Regions from separate parts of the Homo sapiens genome. Here region 1 is linked to region 2. The links come from fine-mapping of genetic effects on gene expression. A gene starts in region 2. The other region holds a variant in brackets. All regions are shown on one strand. Distances are from middle to middle.

Evidence for each region. PIP is the estimated chance that this variant, and not a neighbour inherited with it, causes the effect.
Region 1: its variant is the best candidate, but not a certain one, in a credible set for the expression of CAD in whole blood (TOPMed, PIP 0.63).

The regions. Positions count from the first base shown.
Region 1 is chr2:27,245,540-27,257,710 of GRCh38, forward strand. SLC30A3 (solute carrier family 30 member 3) reads right to left here. Exons shown (of 8, transcript NM_003459.5): 5 at 11,615-11,813; 6 at 11,249-11,354; 7 at 10,847-10,981; 8 at 8,145-9,921. The coding sequence ends at 9,773. Among named protein-coding and RNA genes, the nearest start is that of SLC30A3, 11 kb to the right of the region's middle. RefSeq lists enhancers at 3,919-4,713, 4,714-5,507 and a silencer at 4,343-4,523. The variant G/A (reference allele first, on the strand shown) is at 6,462.
Region 2 is chr2:27,212,867-27,223,968 of GRCh38, forward strand. It overlaps CAD (carbamoyl-phosphate synthetase 2, aspartate transcarbamylase, and dihydroorotase), which reads left to right and starts at 4,503. Exons shown (of 44, transcript NM_004341.5): 1 at 4,503-4,767; 2 at 5,011-5,150; 3 at 8,352-8,481; 4 at 9,328-9,470; 5 at 9,653-9,794; 6 at 10,000-10,171; 7 at 10,697-10,882; 8 at 11,051-11,102. The coding sequence starts at 4,686. ATRAID (all-trans retinoic acid induced differentiation factor) reads left to right here. Exons shown (of 7, transcript NM_001170795.4): 2 at 311-432; 3 at 2,455-2,526; 4 at 2,608-2,679; 5 at 2,766-2,887; 6 at 3,657-3,754; 7 at 3,978-4,291. The coding sequence ends at 4,082. RefSeq lists a silencer at 4,375-4,604.

The sequences.
Region 1 (12,171 bases), 33 kb after region 2:
ATGCTAAGTCCTAGAGTGTGGAGGCCTCCAGTCCTGCTAATGTTAACCCTTTCCAGTCTTTCCAAACCCAGATTCCTGCCTGACAAGGTCTCCCTCAGGTACCTGGAGGACTTTATTGGTTGGAAAATAGAGTACCATTTCCAGAACTCTTCTTTTTCTTTCTAGAGACTCCATTTCCTTGCTTAAACTCTTAGAACAAGTCAGAGATTATTTTCCCAATTGTACTCATGAGTACTTGGGACTCGCACACAGATTCCCACAGAACTTGGATAGCCTCACCCTCAAGTAGAAGCAGTGTTTTCTGCCAAGTAGCGGACGCATTTTACTTAGTTGCTAAGTGGTGGGAGATGTTCCTGTCCTGAGCCTTTCTTTGGCTCTCCTAATCATAGCTCAGCTCTGAGTTGAATAAAGTTTTTTCCCGTATGACCAGAAAGTAAATCTCATTATATTGGGAAACAAAATGAAAAAACTTACCAGCAAAAACCAAAATTAGCCCTTTATTTTTTAAAATTTTTATCGTTTTGAGATGGCATCTCGCTCTGTTGCCCAGGCTGGAGTGCAGTGGTGCAATCTTGGCTCACTGCAACCTCCGCCTCCCAGGTTCAAGTGATTCTCCTGCCTCAGTCTCCCGAGTAACTGGGACTACAGACATGTGCTACCACACCCAGCTAACTTTTTGTATTTTTAGTAGAGATGGGGTTTTGCCATGTTGGCTAGGCTGGTGTTGAACTCCTGACTTCAAGTGATCTGCCCGCCTCAGCCTCCCAAAGTGCTAGGATTACAGGCATGAGCCACCGCACCCAGCCAAAATTAGCCCTTTAATACAATACCTTTGGGCCTGTTCCACATCCACTGAGAAACAACTTCATATCTGCCATGTAATTGTCATGAAGCATAAAAAGTTAGTTTGCTTCCTGAGGTACTTAAGAGGTTTGATCTATTTCTTCTATAAGAAACATTTATATGCCAAGCACTGTTCTAAGCGCTTTACAGATACATCCCTTTGACACTTGGATGAATCCTTTGACTATCCCCCACCTTGAAAGAAGTGTGGCTAACGTTGGGTTGCTATTACAGCCATTTTCTCCCACCTCTTCACTGTCCACCCTAGTGAAGGAGACATCCCCCTCAACATAGGTAGTCCACCGGGAGCTTTGTCAGCTGCACTCTAGTCCTGGCCCTTACAACTAACTACCTGCAACCATGGCAAGTCAGTATGCCTGTGGGCTTTTATTTTTTATACTAAAATTTTGTTTTTGAGACAGGGTCTCATTCTGTCACCCAGGCTGGAGTGCAGTGGCACGATCTCAGCTCACTGCAGCCTTGACCTCATGGGCTCAAGTGATCCTCCCACTTAAGCCTCCCAAGGAGGTGGGACCACCATGGCCATACCACCATGCCCGGCTAATTTTTTGTGTTTTTTTTGTAGAGATGGGGTTTTGCCATGTCGTCCAGGCTGGTCTCAAACTCCTGGAGTCAAGTTATCCTCCCCACTCAGCCTCCAGAATAGCTGGGACCACAGGCACATGCCACCACACCTGGCTAATTTTTGTTCTTGTTTTGTTTTATAGAGATGGGGATTCGCCATGTTGCCCAGGCTGGCCTATTACTTTTTTTTTTTTTTTTTTTTTTTTTGAGACGGAGTCTTGCTCTGTTGCCCAGGCTGGAGTGCAGTGGCGCGATCTTGGCTCACCGCAAGCTCCGCCTCCCGGGTTCACGCCATTCTCCTGCCTCAGCCTCTCCGAGTAGCTGGGACTACAGGCACCTGCCACCACGCCCGGCTAATTTTTTGTATTTTTAGTAGAGATGGGGTTTCACCGTGGTCTCGATCTCCTGACCTCGTGATCCGCCCGCCTCAGCCTCCCAAAGTGCTGGGATTACAAGCATGAGCCACCGCGCCCGGCCAGGCTGGTCTATTCCTGGGCTCAAGTGATCCTCCTGCATCAGCCTCCTAAAGTGCTGGGATTACAGCCATGAGCCACCATGCCCAACCCACCTATAGGCTTTAAAAGGGTAGTTGGCAATTCCCAGTGTAAAATTGCAAAGTGTCTGTAGTTCTGCAGTAATATCCCCTGGGACAATGAGGGGGCATTGGCTGGTGGAGGTGAGGAGCAGAGAATGAGGGCCAGGATGGGATGAGTGCTTAATGGAAGACTCGTCTGGCAACAGTGCCTAGAAGAGAGAAAGGAGCCATTTCACCATCAGGACGCCAATTAGGAAGTTGTTGCAGTAAATACAGATCATGGGTGAAGAGGTTCTAGATTCAGAGATAGGAATAGATGTTATAACACTGAGGAGAGAGGAGAGTGAAGAATGACTGCACAGTGTGGGACCTCAAGACTGGAAGAAAGAAGACTGATGAAGGTAGACCAGATAGCCAGTTTGGGGTAGGGGAGGGCTGATTCCATTTGGGCATGATACCTAGCTGCCGTGGGCCATCTATATGGAGATGTCATGGAGGTAATGGAGCTGGGGAGTTGGAGCAAGCACAATAGAGACAGGTGGCATTTATATGTGACAACACAAGTGCCATGAGAGCAGGGACTTTACTCACTGATGTATCCCAAACACCAGAACAGGGTTGAGCACATAGTAGGTGCTCAGTAAATGTGTTGACCGAAGCATCAACATAAAGGTAATTGAAGCTTTTAAAATATGCATATTTGTTCACCAAGAGAATAGCGGCAAGCCTCAATTTCAGCAAGGGCCGCAGGAGAACTCAGGAGAAAGCCCTCAAGAGGCCCAGAATTCCAAGTGTGTGAGGGACGGGAGACGTATTGGCAGATTCAAATCCTGTAGCAGGCCAAAGAGAAGGAAATTTGAGGCAAGGACCTTGTCACAATAGTTGTTAGGCTGATGCTTTGTGGTGGTAACCAGGTTTCACGAGGTTACTGAGGGACTGGTTTAGAAGCTGAGGTCATTTACCAAGTGGCAAGGAAAAAAATGGGTGTTGAGATTGGGAGCTCAAAGGCTTTAGAGAAGGTCAGGGAAGCTGTGATGAATCCGCAGGAGATTAATAGAGTCACAAGCAGGACTCAAGGGGAAGCTAAACACTGAATTTGTGGTGGGGCTGGGGGAAGCCATGTCCAGGGCAGGGGCGTAGAAGGGCTTGCACTCCCTGGAGGACCCAAGAAATAGAAATGAGCTGGCCGGGCGCGGTGGCTCACGCCTGTAATCCCAGCACTTTGGGAGGCCGAGACGGGCGGATCACGAGGTCAGGAGATCGAGACCATCCTGGCTAACACAGTGAAACCCCATCTCTACTAAAAATGCAAAAAAAATTAGCCGGGTGTGGTGGCAGGCACCTGTAGTCCCAGCTACTCGGGAGGCTGAGGCAGGAGAATGGTGTGAATCCGGGAGGCGGAGCTTGCAGTGAGCCAAGATCACGCCACTGCACGCCAGCCTGGGCGACAGAGCGAGACTCCATCTCAAAAAAAAAAAAAAAAGAAAAGAAATAGAAGTGACTGCCTGCTTGAGAGCACCTGAATTGCTACCATCAAATGCTACCATCAGATACAGATTTATACCTCGGGAATCAGCATGTATGAAACCTGCTTGTTGGCCCATTGGTAGGAGCTGGGGATTAGAAGATATTTTATGGACTTTGCATTGGCCTGACATTTATCTGTTCACCATCCTTCCACCCATTCCTTCCATCACCAGCAGTCATACTGAGCATGTACTTGGTGTCTGGCTGTGAGCTAAGTGCTGGGGGAGCATGCCTTCCTTCAAGGAGTGTGCCGTCAGTAGGCCACTCACCGTTTTACTGTGTCTCCCAGCAGTCCTGTGTGACCACGTCCTGGTCCAGCAGGATGGGGGAAAGCAGGGAGGCCATGCTTGGGCAGACTCCGTGGTCAGGAAAAAGCAAGTTTGTTGTTGTAGGGTCTGAACCCTGCTTATTTTGGTAAGCTTTCTTATCTTTTTAATATTCTGGGTTCAGTTCCCTTCTATTTCTCCCCAGGCTTTTGGCTACAGTCCTTTAAAAATTTATAGCCATCGTTGTTGAGCCAAAGCAAACAAAAGAATGGAATCGGAGGTTAAGGCTGTTTGGGTCGTGTCCTCTGAGTGAGCTTCTCCAGGTCTGGGCTTCTTCCTGTCCCCAGGATGCTGTAGCCAGAGAGCAGATGAGGGGGTCTGGGGTACCACACGGGGAATGGCAAGAGCAGAGAAAGGCTAGGACCAGGGCTGAAGGAGGGAGGCACAGGCTCTGGCAACCCGGGCCTTCCTGCCTACCCACTCTCCCCACGTTCTTTCTCTTGCCAGTTAAGGAAACGGGGCCTGCTTTGTGTATGGGATTGCTGGTGATCACAGCTGCATCTGGGGGTGTGGTGGTATACACGTGGAGTCCCAGCTGCTCAGGAAGCCGAGGCAGGAGGATTGCTTGAGCCCAGGAGTTTGAGGCTAGCCTGGGCAGCATAGCAAGACCCCATCTCAAAAAAGGAAAAAGCCCCCACACAGCTGCATCTGGGGCCTCAGGCTTTGCCCTGTTGGGGCCTGGGAACTGCCCCTCCAAGCACCCCTTGGAAGGTACTGACCAGGTACTGACGAGGTGTCCCTGGGACTTAAGCCAGGGACAGGGAGGCCCTGGGAACTGCCAGAGTTGGGGGAAGGGAGGTTGGAGAGTTAAGAAAGAGTACTCCAACTATAAAAGGAACACCCTGACTACAGTTCTCCACAGTGAGGGTCTCTGCCTGGCGGAGGGGAAAAGGGTCTTCCCGTCCTGACCCCAGTCCTGAGACTCCCTGCAAAGACTTCCGGCTGCCTCTGCCGCTGCGGTGGCGTATGCCCCAGTTGGGGGCGCTGCTCCCCAGCCAGCCGGGCTCTAGGAAGCGGGAGGGCCAAATGCCTCCTTTAAGCCGGCTGCACCGGGGCCCTGACCGGGCGGGAGGGCTGCTGGAGGGTGGTGCTTATCACCCGGGCTTCCTCTTGACCCTGCCGGCTGGGCCCTGGGCCTTGGCCTTCGCCTCTTAAACGTGGTGCAGGACTCACCCTGGGCCACCCCCAGGTGGGCAGCCTTGGGAGAAGGGCAGGACCTGCCCATGTGCCCATGCTCCTCCGCCCAGTCACTGCAGCACGAAGCCTCTCAGGTCCGCACCCTGCATTCTGGCCCTTTGATCTCCAGTTTCTCCTTTGAATAGCCCTGCAGCTCTCAGCAGGGAAACCCGGCCTGCCTCTCTCTCCCTCCACTCTCCATTTCACCCCTTTCCTGGCTGTCCCTCTTCTCTGGTTCCTCTCTGACCCGAAAGCCCACCCCTCCCCTAGTTAATCAGCTGTGTAAAGAGCTGGGGCTGGGCTGAGGGATGGGCCCTCCCCCACCTGCGTTGCTCTCCCCTGCCTTCCCCTCACCCCTCCCAGGCCCAGTCCCTTCCCCTCGACTCTCCCTCCTCCATCTATCATCAAGGAAGGGCACCCAGGGGAAAGGGACTTCTGGATAAGCGAGTGGAGAAGGAGGATAGGAGGATAATGGGGGAGTGCAGGCAGCTCTGCAGATAAGGATTTCCTGGGCTCCCGGGGATGGTGGCCCAGTGTGAAGGTGGGAGAATGCTCCAGAGACCTGTCTCCTCATCCTCCCGATGCCCGAAGGTGAGTGGAAAGGCAGGATGGCATAGAGAGAGGGCTGGGGACGTCCAGGGGCCAGAACTCAGAACCGAGTGGAACCAGCTGCACGACCATGGGCAGGTGAGCCTGCTTCTCCATCTGTCAGGTGCACAGGATACTGTCCGCACCACAGTGCCTTGCACAAAATAAGCTCAATGATTGCTGCTTCCTGTCCCTGCTGTCAGGGTGCCGGGCCACTCTCTTCTCCTGAAATCTCTCCCCTGCATCCTGGGTTCAACCCAAAAGCTAACTCTTATATACACCTTCTATATACCAGGCACATTCACACCCATGATATCACGTAATCACTATTTTATAATTGAGAAAGCTGAGACGCAGAGAGGTTAACTGTGACTAGAATAATAGTAAAGGCAGAGCAGAACCAGAGGGTCTGACCCCAGAGCCCCAGGACGGGAGTGCCAGCGGCAGCAGGCTGCTGGAAGGGCTGAGGAAAGATTTGCTGAGAAACTCAACTAGGCAAGAGCTTCAAAGGGGCCTGGAGTGGGAATGAGAGCCTGGGCATGTGCTGGCTGACCCTGGGGAAGTCTTTTTCCCTCCCTGAGTCTCCTCCTTCTATGGGCAGAAGATGGACTGGATGCTTGGTGAAGGCATTCACCTGCCCTGAGCATTCCCCTGCAAAGGGACCCAGCATCGCACAGATAGGACAGGCTGTGGCTTAAAGCATTTCATAGGGTGAAAATCGAGTCCTCCTGTTCCCCACCCTCCTTCCCTCTCCTCGATTTCCTCACTCTTCCCCACCCCCATCCTGTCACCTGGGGCCTATAATCAATGAGACGTAAAATGAGAAAGTATCAGGAACCAGCAAAGCATGGCGAGCAGCTGGGGCGGCCTTGCCGCCGGGC[G/A]TGATGGACTGCCAGCCCTTCGCTTCGCCAGCCTCCCACACCCTGACGTGGGCAGTGGCGTCTCACCCAGCCTGGGCTAAGGCTCCCAGCTGGACATCAGGGAGGGGGCTACCTCTGATGAGTCCAAAAGCCTCACCTTTAAAAAGGAATGAAATCTATGGTCTTGACATGGAAAGATGAGTCTAGGCTGCATGGTTGAGTCATAAACACAGGTAACACGATCTCACCTATAAGATGACCCCATTTTTGTTATTATGTAGAAATACTGACCCCATACTAGGATTAGCAGTTTTCTCGGAAAGTAAGATTACAGGGGAAACATTCACTTTCTACTTTATATACTTTTCCTTTGTTGTACCCTTAAAACAAGTATATATTGCTTTTATAGTAAAAATAATCTGATAATAAAGATATTTCTATTATGAGGAAGGCTCACAGAAATATGCATGGGCTATTGAAAATGCTCAACGTCCTTGCTTTGGGCTGGGATTTTATCAACATGGTGGGAAGGCCTGAAGCACTAGATCTAAAATCAAAGCACAGAGTCTAATTTTTTTTTTTTTTTTTAAGACAGAGTCTCCCTCTGTCGCCCAGGCTGGAGTGCAGTGGCGCAATCTCAGCTCACTGCAACCTCTGCCTTCCGGGTTCAAGCGATTCTCCCTGCCTCAACCTCCCGAGTAGCCAGGATTACAGGTGCCCACCACCATGCCCAGCTAATTTTTTTTTTTTTGAGACAGAGTTTCACTCTTGTTGCCCAGGCTGGAGTGCACTGATGCAATCTCGGCTCACCGCAACCTCTGCCTCCTGGGTTCAAGCAATTCTTCCGCCTCAGCCTCCTGAGTAGCTGGGATTACAGGCATGCGCCACCACACTGGCTAATTCTTGTATTTTTAGTAGAGACGGGGTTTCTCCATGTTGGTCAGGCTGGTCTCGAACTCCTGACCTCAGGTGATCCACCCACCTCGGCCTCCTGAAGTGCTGGGATTACAGGCATGAACCACTGTGCCCGGCCAAATTTTTGTATTTTTTAGTAGAGACAGGGTTTGACCATGTTTGAGACACAGTCTCACTGTGTTGCCCAGACTGGAGTGCAGTGGCACAATCATGGCTCACTGCAGCCTCGACAACCTGGGCTCAAGTGATTCTCCCCACTTAGCCTCTCAAGTAACTGGGACTACAGGTACACACTACCATGCCCAGCTAATTTTTGTATTTCTTGTACAGACAGGGTTTCACCATGTTGCCCAGGCTGATCTTGAACTCCTGGGGTCAAGTGATCTGCCTGCCTCAGCCTCCCAAAGTGCTGGAATTACAGGCGTGAGCCATCTTGCCTAGCTGATTTTTCTTTTTTTTTCTTTTTTTTTTTTTTTGATGGAGTCTTGCTCTGTCGCTCAGGCTGGAGTGCAGTTGCATGATCATAGTTCATTGCAGCCTCAACCTCCTGGGCTCAAGTGATCCTCCCACCTCAGCCTCCTGAGTAGCTGGAACCACAGACATACACCACCACACGTAGCTAATTTATTTTTATTTTTAATTTTTTTTGTAGAGACAGGGTGTCACTATGTTGACCAGGCTGGTCTTGAACTCCTGGCCTCAAGCGATCCTCCTGCCTCAGCCTCTCAAAGTGCTGGGATGACAGACATGAGCCACCAAACCCAGTGAGTTTGATTTTTTTTTTTTTTTGAGACAAGGTCTTGCTCTGTTGCCCAGGCTGAAGTGCAGTGGCATGATCATGGCTGACTGCTGCCTTGACCTCCTGGGCTCAGGCAATCCTCCTGCCTCAGCCTCCTGAATAGCTGGGACTACAGGTATGCACCACCACACCCAGCTAATTTTTAAATTATTTGTAGAGACAGGGGTTTCCCTAGGTTGCCCAGGCTGGTCTTGAACTCCTGGGCTCAAACAATCCTCCTGCCTCAGCCTCCAAAGGGCTGAGATTACAGGCACAGGCCACTATGTCCAGCTTGAGTTTGATTTTTTTTAAAGAGAAAATCAACAATCCCTTAATGAGCCTGATTTTAAGACTTAATGTGTCAAAATATGCAGTTCTTAAGACAAAGGGGGAATAGGTGTAAAAGAGGTCCTTGGTGTTCACAGCCTAAACCTGGACTCAGGGTTGGCTGCTATCAGGGTTGAGGGGTCCCTACCGCTGGACACCTTAGATGGCCTGAGAACCAAGCCCACATCAGTGCTATGGTCTAGCCATTCTCCCTCAAAGGGACCCAGCCTCCCTCCAGCCAGCCTGAGGCCCACTGGCATGCAGGGACCTCTGAGAACGACTGACTCCCAGGGATTCCTTGGCTCCTTACCTTCCAGCATTCTCCTGCAACCAAGCCCAGGGCACATGGGACTGTCCCTGAGCCAAGGACCCAGGCATGCTGTGAGCCAGGGGAAGGGGAGTAAAGAGACTGGTGGCTTTTACCCTCCATCTGAGGGTGGAGGGGCTGGGAAGGGACAGGAGGTCTGTGGGAGGTCACTCCAGAGGCTGGGAAGGGACAGGAGGGATTCTGTTGTTCTCAAGTGACCTATTTGACTTCCCCCTCCTGAGGAGTCAGCACACAGGCTGAAAGATGCAGTGAGACACAAGTTTATTGGTGGAGCTGCAGCGGAGTCCTCCCTCTTTCAGGGATAGCCAAGGGCACAGCACCAACAGAGGGATGGAGAGATAGACCCCCAAACAGACACATGGATGGAGCAGACTCATAGAAACCATAGCACAGCCACATAGGCACAGAGACACACAGGCCACAGCACCAAGAACACACACACACACACACACACACACACACACACACACACAGACAAAACCACAGGGCTAAGACACACGGACAAAGTGCGGGCTTTGGGGCCCCTGCATAGACAGAGCGAGGGCCATGTGGGGAGGGGGCCCCTACTGACCTCCCCCAGGCATAGGCACACCAACAGCACATAGACAGGCAGATGCCCCCAGCCAGCCAGCCTGCCACACAGACAAATGGACTGCAGGGAAAGGATGTTCGTGGCTCCACATGAACCATGGGGAGATGGCACCACAGGCCTTCAACACACCCTGCCACACTGAGGCCTGGGAGTCCCCGCCCCTGAACTAGTCACATCTATTCCCCTGACTCCCACCCCACTCCCCGCCACACTTTGGTCTTGCCCACTGGGGCTGGGGCTGGGGCTGAGGCTGGGGAAACTGGCAGGTGGTAGGAGGGAGAGAGGAAGGGGTATGGACCTGGCTCGGTCCCGTCTCTGTGATCAGGGCAGCAGATGCTGAGAGTCTGGGGCTGAGCCTCGGCCTGGCAGTGGGGTGAGGGCAGGGCCATGGCTCAGGCTTGGGGGGGTTCCTGGCAGCGCAGGCACTGGGCCATCTCCGGCTGATACTGCTCGACCTGCAGGGTGCAGCTGGAGAATCCAAACCGGGAGTAGAGCCGGGATGAGGCTTCAGCCAGGACGGCTTCAGGGTCAGCGGTGGAGTCTGTGGGAGAGTGATAAGAGGCGGCATCCATCCCGGGGGAGAAAGAACAGGCAGGGACTGAGATAAGGACAGGGAAAGGGGCTGCACAGCATTAAAGCCAGGCGTGAATGGAAGCCTGCTTTTCTTTCTGTATTGTATGAACAGCATAAAAGTGTCAAATCAAATGTTGGAGAGACTCACCCCAATCAACCATGCTAACACACTAAACTCTTTCCAGTCTCCTATTCTCTCCTGTCATTAAGTGTCAACATACAGCTCAACATTTCAGCAGCCATACCACCCGATTTCCCAGGACAATCCAGTTGTTAAATATCTGTCTCATTGTCCCTCTAGAGTTTCCATCAAATATCCCACAAATTATAATATTTTTGGCATACAAATTGCATGACTCTGATTGCTTCTTGCATCTGGAAGAAACTCAAAAATCCTTTGTCAGCTCATGACTCACCATATATATTTTTAATAGTTGAATCATAATGTAGATGCAATTTTATATTCAGCTTTTTTCTCAGCATTATACCATAAACATTTTTCATAGTTGCTGTACAGTCTTCACAAGCATCATTTTTAACAGTTATGTGATACCTCAGGGTGGAGGTGCTGTAATTTACCTAACTGTGCCCCATCACTAGACCTGTAGGTACTAATGATCTTTTAAAGGGTTGTTGGTTCCCTGTGCTACTTCAAAGAGGGTGAAACTGCCCCCAGAACACTGCATCCAGTGGATGGAGACTCCTTGTCTCCAACATGCACGAGCGCACGTGCATGTGTGTGTGTGTGTATGTGTCTATGTGAGAGAGAGAGACACAGAGAAACAGAGACAGATCAAAAAAGACTGAAACAATTCCAGTAACTCAAGCTATGGTCCCATGTTTGGGGTGGGGTATGTTCCAGGTAGTAACTAGCTGGGGCCAGTGTGACTCACCGATGGCCAGGTGTGCAGAGGCAACATGGTAAGTGAGCGTAAGGGCCCACAGGTGCAGCTCATGGGTTGCCCGGACTCCTGGCACCGACAACAGCGTATCCCGCACAGGTTCGAACCCCACATTGCGGGGGGTACCTGCAACCAGCACCAGTCATGCCTTACTGCTAGGGCTACTCCTGCCCAGAAGCAGCACCCCCACCACTGGATTCCACCTCCCCTATCCTGTATGCACTCTCCTTTTGACCCCTACAATTCACCCTATGCCCAAATCCTTGTTCCAGCAGCAGACCCCATGAGCCAAGCCTTCTTCCCGTACTATCTTCAAAGAAAAAAGTGATGGCCCACTGCGAGAGTAAAGTCAGAGAGGGCCACAGGGATGGGGAGCTGTGGTGCCCGACTCACCTTCCATGAGGATTCGAAGAACGTCTCGGAGGGTGGGAGCGGTGGATCCAAGGGCACAGATGGAGAAGAGGAAGGTGCTGATGGGGTCGGCTGCCTTGTATTGAGGCTGCAGAGAAAGAGACCCCTAAGCCCAACAACCAGGGACCTTTCAGAGGAAGATCTAGGGGTATCTTGAACAAACATGACCTGAGAGGCCCCTCAAAACCCTGAAGAGGGGACAGGGAACATGACTCATGTCTGGGAGAGTCCTGGGAGGTGGGAGGGAGGAGCTGGAGGGAGGAGGAAGGAAGCTTTGGGACCTGGGAAGGAGTGGGCTGGGATGTGGTTGTGGGGAGGAAGGCTGGGGCAGGTCTCCAATGATGGTACCTTGAAGTAGATGAGGATGGAGGCAGCCAGTACCCCAAAGCTCTGCAGGAGGTCCCCCAGCACGTGCACAAATGCCGCCCGGACGCTGGTGTTCCCCAGGGGCAGGGGCTCTTCAGGCCCCTCCTCCAGCGGTGCATACTCTGCTCCCCTAGACCCGTGGCTGTGGGGGGGCCCAGCCTGGTGCAGCACAAAGGCCATTCTGAGGGGTAAGCAGAGCACCTCAGCCTAGGGCCCTGCTCCTGGCCTCCTATACCCCCATCTCCATGTCTCACCTCCCCAGTAGCCCTTTCCCAGCCCCTGGAAGAAAACAGCATTTTGCAAGAGAGATAAACAATGCAGCCTGGGGGAAAGAATACCAGACTTGGTGCCACACATGTGGATTCGGAAGCTGGCCCTGTTACTTAAATAGATATGTGACTTGGGCAAGTCACCTGTTGGGATTGACTGCATTAATGGTAAACTAGGGGTAATGCTACCTACCTCATGGGGTGGCTGTGAGGTTTAAATGCAATCATGTTGATGAAAGCCCTCATCAGAGTGGCTGGCCCATGGCAGGC
Region 2 (11,102 bases):
TCAGATTGAGAAGTCTCTGCAGAAAGCATAATAAATAAGTTCGAATAGTGATCTTCAGAGATGAGGACCTTCCCTGTGCGATATCTGGTACTGAAAGTGTCGGGAGCTGATTCGGCGCAGGACTCTGGAGGAAGAGATGGCATCTCCTAGCCTAGCCTGTTACAAGGGTGGGACACGAGCCGTTTATCCATTTATCGGCCCCGTGTTAGAGGAATTCTGGAAACGTGTACTGGCAGTTAATTCTTGATCGCCGTTTGTTCTTTTCTTGGCTTTTCTTTCTGGAGTTCTAATGTTTCTTTCTCTTCTGCAGATATGCACCCAATGTCCAGGGAGCGTGCAAAATTTGTCAAAAGTGGCCTTTTATTGTAAAACGACACGAGAGCTAATGCTGCATGCCCGTTGCTGCCTGAATCAGAAGGGCACCATCTTGGGGTGAGGGGAAGACATCCCTAGATGCTGGATACAGGCCATTCCTTAGCCTGGCTGCTTTTATACCCTTATATTATTTAAAGAATCCACCTATTATGGTTTCAGCTGTAATCATCACGCAGATGTCTACCAAAACTAGATCTCTTTAGTGTCTTTTTTAACCTTTCCACACTCCAGGTACATACGGGTACCTCTAGCTTCCTATTAAGCATTTCCTACTGAGTGCACCCTAACTTCAAACTCAAAATGTTATGTTTTGCTTCCATTCTCTTCTTTCCTTCATCTACCTAAATACTTCTCTGTATTAAGCTTTTAGAAAACCAACATTTTCCATTATCACTCTCTTGCTTTAATACTATATTTAGTATTAAATTTTGTCTCAGGACAAAATTCAAACCATTAAGTACCATACTAGTCCCAACCCACTTTTCCAACATTATTTCCAATTACTTGTCCGCTCAAACCTCCATAATGGTCTGCACCAGCCAGATTTGCCTGCCCTCAAAGGCATTCCACCTTTGTTCAGGCCTCTCTCCATACCTGAAATTGCCTTCCTCTACCAAATTAGGAAATATCCATCCTTCAATTCCAACATCTTTTGTGAATATTTACTACTACTAAGTTCCAGAGTAATACCTTTTTTAAATTATTATTTATTTATTTTTTTGAGACGGAGTTTCACTCTTGTTGCCCAGGCTGGAATGCAATGGCATGATCTCGGCTCACCGCGCCCTCCACCTCCTGGGTTCAAGCGATTCAGTAATACCTTTTTTAAAAACTTCCTGTAATCTTTAGTGTCCACTCAAATATATTTATACACTGTCCTGTGGTTTCTTTTATATTGTAATTTAATGTTTACAGTGCTTTTATTTTTGGGCAGTGCTCTTGTTCCTCTAACTACATTGTAAGCCACTCAAAGGCCAAAATACTGTGTTACATATTTTTAACATTCTCCCAGTGTTTGCAGTTTGTAGGGACTCAGTAAATATTTGTAGAATAAAGGAATGGATAGCAGTAGATATTGAAGAAAAAAATAACGTGGCATGATCCTTAATGTCCAGCAGTTTACAACCAATCTGTGGTAGAAAATACATGTGGAAAAAAACTTTGATTTATGTGACTTTTTTTTTTTAATTTAAAGGCCCTCTGTGGATCTGAAAATCATAATATGAGATTCACTAATGTAGACAAGAAACACAGATTTCTCCCAATAGATGCATAACCGATTAGAACAGTGCTGGCGGATAGAACTTTCTGTGATTATGAAAATGTTCCGAGCCAGGCGCGGTGGCTCATGCCTGTAATCCCAGCACTTTGGGAGGCCCAGATGGGCGGATCACGAGGTCAGGAGTTCAAGACCAGCCTGACCAACATGGTGAAACCCCGTCTCTACTAAAAATACAAAAATTAGCCAGGCGTGGTGGCATGTGCCTATAATCTCAGCTACTCAGGAGGCTGAGGCAGGAGAATTGCTTGAACCCGGGAGATGGAGGTTGCAGTGAGCCGAGATCGTGCCACTGCACTCCAGCTTGGGCAACAGAGTAAGACTGTCTCAAAAAAGGAAAATGTTCCGTATCTGTACTAACCAGTACAGTAGCTACTAACGTGGTTATTCCATTTGCACTTGAAATACGGCTAGTGCAAATGAGACACTGAATTTTTAGGTTAAATTAATTTTCTTCTATAGAGTCAGGGTCTCATTCATATTGCCCAGGCTGGTCTTGAATTCCTAGGTTCAAGTGATCCTCCCCCGCTTGGCCTCCTAAAGTGCTGGGATTACAGGAGTGAGTCACTACACCCAGCCTAAGGTACATTAATTTAAATTTAAGTAGTTACATGTGGCAAGTGGCGATTCTATTGGATAATGCAGAATTAAAATGTCTACCACAGCTCCTAGTGTGTGACTCTGAACACAGCTGTGTTCAATTATTAGCTGAAAAGGGGGTTGTGTAGTCAAATACAAACTGTGCCGTGGCTGAAGAAAAAGAGGAACACACAGTTATATTGATTACTTTATTTCCTCAGGCTGGATCTCCAGAACTGTTCTCTGGAGGACCCTGGTCCAAACTTTCATCAGGCACATACCACTGTCATCATGTAAGTAGTTAGGTACCTCCCACCCAAAAGGCTAATATAATGTAGGTTGATGCGAAAGTGCTAACATTGTGTACTTTGCAGAGACCTGCAAGCAAACCCCCTCAAAGGTGACTTGGCCAACACCTTCCGTGGCTTTACTCAGCTCCAGACTCTGTGAGTAAGGGTATGGGAAGAGAATCAAAGAGGGATGATGCTGTGAGTTTAGCAACTTTGCATGTTATGACCACATTTCTCTATAGGATACTGCCACAACATGTCAACTGTCCTGGAGGAATTAATGCCTGGAATACTATCACCTCTTATATAGACAACCAAATCTGTCAAGGGCAAAAGAACCTTTGCAATAACACTGGGGACCCAGGTATGCTGTCTTACCTCCAAACTTCTGGGAATTGTCTTTTCTCCCTTGTATTTTCCACTTTAGATCAGAAAGACAAAGTTGCTTAAGCGCCTTTCATTCAGAGTTCTGGGGCTATAACCCCTTTGAAAGAAAAGATCTTAAGATATACTCTATTATTTGTCTCACGTGTGTCCGTGTAAAGAGACCACCAAACAGGCTTTGTGTGAGCAACAAGGCTGTTTATTTCACCTGGGTGCAGGTGGGCTGAGTCCAAAAAGAGAGTCAGCAAAGGGTGGTGGGATTATCATTAGTTCTTACAGGTTTTGGGGTAGGCAGTGGAGTTAGGAGTGCTGTTTTGCGGGCAGGGGATGGATCTTACAAAGTACATTCTCAAGGGTGGGGAGAATTACAAAGAACCTTCTTAAGCGTGGGAGAGATTACAAGGAAACTTCTTAAGGGTAAGGGAGATTACAAAGTATATTGATCAGTTAGGGTGGGGCAGAAACAAATCACAATGGTGGAATGTCATCAGTTAAGGCTATTTTCATTTCTTTTGTGGATCTTCAGTTGCTTCAGACCATCTGGATGTATACGTGCAGGTCACAGGGGATATGATAGCTTAGCTTGGGCTCAGAGGCCTGACATTATTGTTACTGTTTTTATCTGTAATTTTCTTTCTTCTTCCTTTATCCTAGCAATGATTGAGAGAATCTAAGTTGAAACAGATAATTGAGAAATATGCCTAATGAAATGGATAAAGTGATGTTCTCTATTTCTCTCTGGCCTCCAGAAATGTGTCCTGAGAATGGATCTTGTGTACCTGATGGTCCAGGTCTTTTGCAGTGTGTTTGTGCTGATGGTTTCCATGGATACAAGTGTATGCGCCAGGTGAGGAATTAGGCCGTCTAACTAGGGATACAAGGAATGCATAGAGCAAGTCTTCTCAGAAAGGAGAGCCACAAGACCAGGAGCTGATACAAATTTCCTATAGGTGGAAAACTATAGAATTGCCCTAGACAAAGTGATAGGTATATTAGGAAAGAACTAGGTGTTAGGATGTGGCCCTCCGTGTAACGTTGTATGGGGGTGTTTTTTGGTCTGTTGTTCACAGGGCTCGTTCTCACTGCTTATGTTCTTCGGGATTCTGGGAGCCACCACTCTATCCGTCTCCATTCTGCTTTGGGCGACCCAGCGCCGAAAAGCCAAGACTTCATGAACTACATAGGTCTTACCATTGACCTAAGATCAATCTGAACTATCTTAGCCCAGTCAGGGAGCTCTGCTTCCTAGAAAGGCATCTTTCGCCAGTGGATTCGCCTCAAGGTTGAGGCCGCCATTGGAAGATGAAAAATTGCACTCCCTTGGTGTAGACAAATACCAGTTCCCATTGGTGTTGTTGCCTATAATAAACACTTTTTTCTTTTTTTTTCCTCTCTTTCTTTTTAAGGAAAGGCGCCCTGCCTTTACGTGTTTCTTGCTTGGGGTGGGAGGGACTGCTTTAGGGCAGCCGGTTTTTTCAGGTTTCCCCCGGTTTTGCAGTGCGGAGACCACGGGGGCCCACTCCCCGTGGCTCCGCGGACCCCGCCCCTTACGTGCCCGGCCCCGCCCCTCACGCCGCCTGTGTCCGCGCCGCCGCAGTCTCTGCTGCTGCCGCCAAGCGCGCCCGAGGCTCCTACGCTGCCGCGCCCGGCTTCTCTCCAGCGCCCCGCGCCGTTAGCCACGTGGACCGACTCCGGCGCGCCGTCCTCACGTGGTTCCAGTGGAGTTTGCAGTCCTTCCCGCTTCTCCGTACTCGCCCCCGCCTCTGAGCTCCCTTCCCATGGCGGCCCTAGTGTTGGAGGACGGGTCGGTCCTGCGGGGCCAGCCCTTTGGGGCCGCCGTGTCGACTGCCGGGGAAGTGGGTAAGCAAGCCCGGTTAGGCTGCAGACCTTATCCCACTCTGTGATGCGCCTCTCCTCCCAACCTTCCCCGTCCAGACCCCGCCATTTTCCCGCCAGCGTACCCCCTTCCCCCATTCGGTGCCCATGGGCCCCAGCGCCATAAACCCCTCGCGACCAAGGCAGCCTCCACTGGGGCGTGCTCATCGCGCGGGGAGTGTTCCGAAGGGTGCCCTACCGGAGCCCAGCCCTGCTTCTTTCTTGCAGTGTTTCAAACCGGCATGGTCGGCTACCCCGAGGCCCTCACTGATCCCTCCTACAAGGCACAGATCTTAGTGCTCACCTATCCTCTGATCGGCAACTATGGCATCCCCCCAGATGAAATGGATGAGTTCGGTCTCTGCAAGGTAGCCACACCCAGTGCTTTCTCTACATTCCTTTTCAAGTCAGTAATTGTTAACTATTAGTGAAGTAGGAGACGTTGACACCCTGCTGGGCATCCTGCAGAAAACATACCCACTGAAGTAGTAAAGTCAAGGACTAAGATCACTAGTAACTGTAGTTAGGGGTTGTTAAGTGCCTTGGGAGGCACAGAGTGTTGGAGGCCTCAGGAAAAAGCTACCGCCTTTGTTAAGGGCATCAAGGCTCCAGGTATAGCTGAAAGCATTCTGTATGTAGTGAAGGCATGGATCAAGGAAAAGTAAAAGAGGTGTAAGGGAACAGCCTTGTCCAACTTGTTAGGCATGCAGAAGTCAGGAGAAAAAAGCCTGCAGATAAGTTAAATCCGGTGGGCATGGAGGGACCTGAAGCCAAAGCAGAGTCAGCTTAGTTTGGTAAAGGATCCATTGAAGGTTTTTTTTTAGCAGCAGAGTCAGATGGGAGCAGTGCTTTTTAGGACTACATAAATTAGTGGAAAGAGACTGGAAACTAGGGTCACATACTTCTCTGTGACAGTGAGTGCCAGTTTACCTACAAAACCAGTGACATTATCTTCTAGACCTACTGACATGGCCTCGTCTGATTCTCTGCTTTTCAGTTGTGTTCTTACCTCTAGGTGAGAAAACTGAGTTTCTTCCTACAGTGAGGTTTCCCCTATTCCTTCACCTCTGAAATTTGGAAACTAAGTTGCCCTCTGACAGTTCAAGCATTAAAAAAAACCCAACATATAGTAATTAAGGTAATAGAGGAAGTCAATCTGGCCTAGAGTAGTATCTCTCAAAATTTGTTTGGCCTCACTGCAGGTGTAAGCCTTTAATTCTTAATTTGCCTTCCCAGCCACCCTGACGCTGGGGAGAGTGAGCTCCGGATAAAGGACGTACATGTTGTTCTTCCTGGAAAAGAATTTCTAGGTTCATCACAAACCTACAAATACACTGCATTCTAGTTGATAGTGAATTCTTGTGAATTTGGTTAACCTTTGTCAGTCATCACCTTTGTCAACTCTAGACACACTGACTAAATTGAGTTTATAAAACTACAAAATTGAGGCCTGATTAGGATCAGGGTGGGAAAGGCCTCTTGGAGCCACTCGCACATATAAATGGATTACTCCACCTGGCCAGGGAGGGTTCTGCCAAACTATCCTTCAGATCCCTGGACAGTCTCAGAATGCAGGTTCCTTAAACTGTTCATCACCCAGCTGAATGCAGTTTAAATATGCTGATCCCTCCCACATAAACTTTCTGTTTCTATGTAGCTATTAAACGCTTATCTATTGAGTAACAAGTTTATGGTTTTTGTTTTTTTTTTGGGGACAAGGTCTCACTTTGTCACCCAGGCTGGAGTGCAGTGGCATAATCATGGCTCACTTGCAGCCTCTGCCACCTGAGCTCAAGTAGTCCTCCCACCTCAACCCCCCAAGTAGCTGGGACTACAGGCACCTGCCGCCATGCCTGGCTACTTTTTTTGTATTTTTTGTAGAGACCGGGTATTGTCACATTGCCCAGGCTTGTATGTTATCTTTTTTTATTTAATTTTTTTTTATTTTTATTTTGCTTTGAGGTAGAGTTTCTTTCTTGTTGCTCAGGTTGGAGTGCAATGGGCAACCTTGGCTCACTGCAACCTCCGCCTCCCGGGTTCAAGCTATTCTCCCACCTCAGCCTCCCGAGTAGCTGGGATTACAGGCATGGGCTACCATTCCCAGCTAATTTTGTATTTTTAGTAGAGACAGGGTTTCTCCATGTTGGTCAGGCTGGTTTTGAACTCCCGATCACAGGTGATCTGCCCACCTCGGCCTCCCAAAGCGCTGGGATTACAGGCGTGAGCCACCGCGCCTGGCCTTTTCTTTTTTAAATAATCCCAAATGAAGTTTGGGAGGCATGCTTAGTATTGTGCCCTGAACCTTTGTTTTTTATTTGGTAATGGGGTATTTTGTACCTCCCTATCTTACTCAGTTTTTAATCACACTCTATAATTAATATTTATATGGGTGTTACCTTGTTTTCTAGCTCCCTAAGTCAGAAATAAACATCATGAAGACAGGAACCTCATCTTTTTTTGCTCATTGCTCTTTTCTCAGCATCTTTTGCAATGCCTGCACCTCAATAAATGTCTGACTGACACCATGTGCCTTGCTCTTGAGTTCTCTGTTTCGTGACAAAGACACAAATACATATTCATCATATGACGTAAATAGCAAGAGAGGAAATAAAGTATTAAAACAGCTCTAAGATGGAGGCACAAGCTGTATTGGGTGAGTGGGAGGGGCTTCACAGAGAAAGGATTTGTGATTTCAGTTTTAGATAAAGGAAGAAAGAGGCGGGGCGCGGTAGCTCATGACTTGTAATCCCAGCACTTTGGAAGGCTGAGGTGGGGGGATCGCTTGAGCCCAGGAAGTTTGAGAGCAGCCTGGCAACATGGTGAGACGCTGTCACTACAAAAAATTCAAAAAATTAGCCAGGTGTGATGATCCACACCTGTGGTCCCAACTACTCAGGAGTCTGAGGTGGGAGAATCACTTGAGCCCAGGAGATTGAGGCTGTAGTGAACCGTGTATTTGTGCCACTGTACTCTGCACTCCAGCCTGGATAACAGCAAGACCCTGTCTCAAAAAAAAAAAAAAGGAATGGCTAGGTGCGATGGCTCACTCCTGTAATCCCAGCACTTTGGGAGGCTGAGGTGGGCAGATCACAAGGTCAGGAGATCTGAGACCATCCTGGCTAACATGGTGAAACCCCGTCTCTACTAAAAATACAAAAAATTAGCCGGGTGTGGTGGCGGGCGCCTGTAGTCCCAGCTACTCGGGAGGCTAAAGCAAGAGAATTGCTTGAATCCGGGAGGCAGAGGTTGCAGTGAGCTTAGATGTCGCCACTGCATTGCAGCCTGGGTGACAGAGTGAGACTCTGTCTCAAAAAAAATAAATAATAAATAAATAAAAAGGAAAATGTCATTTTCAGTGATCATCGGGGCACCCTGGGCCTGTGGGTTGTGTTTCGTATAGGAGAGAGCGTTGTTGGTAAATGGAAATACCTATGCAAAAGCACCAAAAGTTTGGTATATTGAAGGCCATTCAATGTGGCTGAATATAGGGTCTGTGGCCACACAATCGGGAAAATGCTGCAAAGAAATAACTTGGCCTGAGGCTTCTCACAATCTCTTTCCATCTACAGTGGTTTGAATCCTCGGGCATCCACGTAGCAGCACTGGTAGTGGGAGAGTGCTGTCCTACTCCCAGCCACTGGAGTGCCACCCGCACCCTGCATGAGTGGCTGCAGCAGCATGGCATCCCTGGCTTGCAAGGTATGGTGGCAAGCAGGGGCATATTTGGGCAGAGCACAGCATGCCTGGATGGAAAGAATCAAGGTTTCTGTAATCTGCTGGGACCTGACTCTAAGATTGTGATAGTTGGAAGGTTTAGATTGGAGTTGGGCTGGGAGAAAGAATTGAACTATCACTCAGAAAGAAAATTTCCAACACAGGAAGGAACTCCCACCTTCCATAATCATCAGCTTAGGGCTAATCTTATTTCATCACCACCACTGGATTATTTTGATGCAAATCTCAGACATCATATCATTTCATCTACAAATAGTTCAATATCTATGCAAAAGGAATCTTTAAAAAACATGATCATAATAACGTCATACACTAAAAAAATTAATAATTCCCTAATACAAGTGTCCAGGCAATGTTTAAAATTTCCCAATTTTTTTTTTTTTTTTTTTTTTTTTTTCTGTTCATTTGAATCTTGCTCTAAACAGGGTTCACACATTGCATTTGGTTGATAAGTCTCTTAATCTGTGGACCTTGTAACCTATTTGAAAACAGGTCATTTTTCCTGTATCTAGTATCCCATAGTCTGCACTTACTTGGTTACACTCCTGTAGTGTTACTTAGCGTATTCTTTTTTTCCCTTTATATTATTTTCTATAAATGGATAGATTTAGAGTTGTTCAATTCAGATGTGATATTTTTGGCAGGAATACTTCATGGTAGTATACTTCTGTCACAATGGCCCAGGATTTTGATGCACATAGAACAGCTGTGTGTGACTGGGGCTCTGGAATGGAAGTGCTTCTGGAAGTCTAACCTCACAGATGACTGAGTTGTAGGAATGTGATCCCTAAGACTGTGCTATTTTGACAGGAGTAGACACTCGGGAGCTGACCAAGAAGTTGCGGGAACAGGGGTCTCTGCTGGGGAAGCTGGTCCAGAATGGAACAGAACCTTCATCCCTGCCATTCTTGGACCCCAATGCCCGCCCCCTGGTACCAGAGGTCTCCATTAAGGTACAGAGGTAGAGTGGGAGAGTGTTGCAAGCTCTAGCACAGTAGTTATATTCTGCCCACAATTGGGGGGTGAACACAGGAGAGAATCAAAGGAGGCTTTGAAGGTAGGAGTTGGTGCAGGCATATCTTATACCCACTGAGCACAGCTGCCAACTGTTGCCCTTTATTCGTCTATTTCTCAGACTCCACGGGTATTCAATACAGGGGGTGCCCCTCGGATCCTTGCTTTGGACTGTGGCCTCAAGTATAATCAGATCCGATGCCTCTGCCAGCGTGGGGCTGAGGTCACTGTGGTACCCTGGGACCATGCACTAGACAGCCAAGGTGAGTAGCTGGGGCCTGTTCAGGGCCTCAGACAAGCAGCTTGGGTGGAAGATCTATCCCTTGGTCCAATTGCTAAAAGTCAGTAGGAGTTGCAGTGAAGAAGATAGACATTGGGACTTAACACTCTCATGGGCTGGGGGGGCTGCAGGTGTGTCTCCTGTAATTGAAATACTGATTTTGATGTCATCTTTTCTGCCCACTCCAGAGTATGAGGGTCTCTTCTTAAGTAATGGGCCTGGTGACCCTGCCTCCTATCCCAGTGTCGTATCCACACTGAGCCGTGTTTTATCTGAGCCTAATCCCCGACCTGTCTTTGGGATCTGCCTGGGACACCAGCTATTGGCCTTAGCCATTGGGGCCAAGACTTACAAGATGAGGTGGGACTTGTGGGGAGCAGAAGGGGCCCATACTTGTGGCATGAGGGGTGGGGTGTCTCAGGAATGAGAAGAGAGTTGGTGTTTATTCGTGTTGAAATAGGAGCGGGGGGGTTGCAGGTGAGGTGGCTCCCACCTGTAATCCCAGCACTTTGGGAGGCCAAGGTGGGCGGATCACTGGAGGTCAGGAGTTCGAGACCAGCCTGGCCAACATGGTGAAACTCTGTCTCTACTAAAAATACAAAAGTTGGCCAGCCATGGTGGCGTGCGCCTGTAATCCCAGCTACTCCAGAGGCTGAGGCAGGAGAATCGCTTGAACCTGGGAGGTGGAGGTTGCAGTGAGCGGAGATCGTGCCATTGCCCTCCAGCCCGGGAAACAGAGGGAGACTCCGTCTCAAAAAAAAAAAAAAAACAAAAAGGAAACAGGAGTGAGGCTACTGAGAACAGGAGATCGGTGAGAGCTGGGGTAGGTTCAGTAGTGAAGAGAGGGTGAGCAGGGCCTGTGACTCGGCATGCTTCTACCTCCAGATATGGGAACCGAGGCCATAACCAGCCCTGCTTGTTGGTGGGCTCTGGGCGCTGCTTTCTGACATCCCAGAACCATGGGTTTGCTGTGGAGACAGACTCACTGCCAGCAGACTGGGCTCCTCTCTTCACCAACGCCAATGATGGTTCCAATGAAGGCATTGTGCACAACAGCTTGCCTTTCTTCAGGTGAGCCTGGTTGACTGGGTCTGTGAAAATTTGAAGCCCTGTGGGCCTTGATGATGGAAAAGTAAAGCACGGCAGTGGATCCGAGTCCCCTGTCCCACTACCCACCTCGAGGCTGCCAGTGTCATGCCAGGGACCATGATGGTTTTCATGATGCAATCTCTTCAATAGTGTCCAGTTTCACCCAGAGCACCAAGCTGGCCCTTCAGATATGGAACTGCTT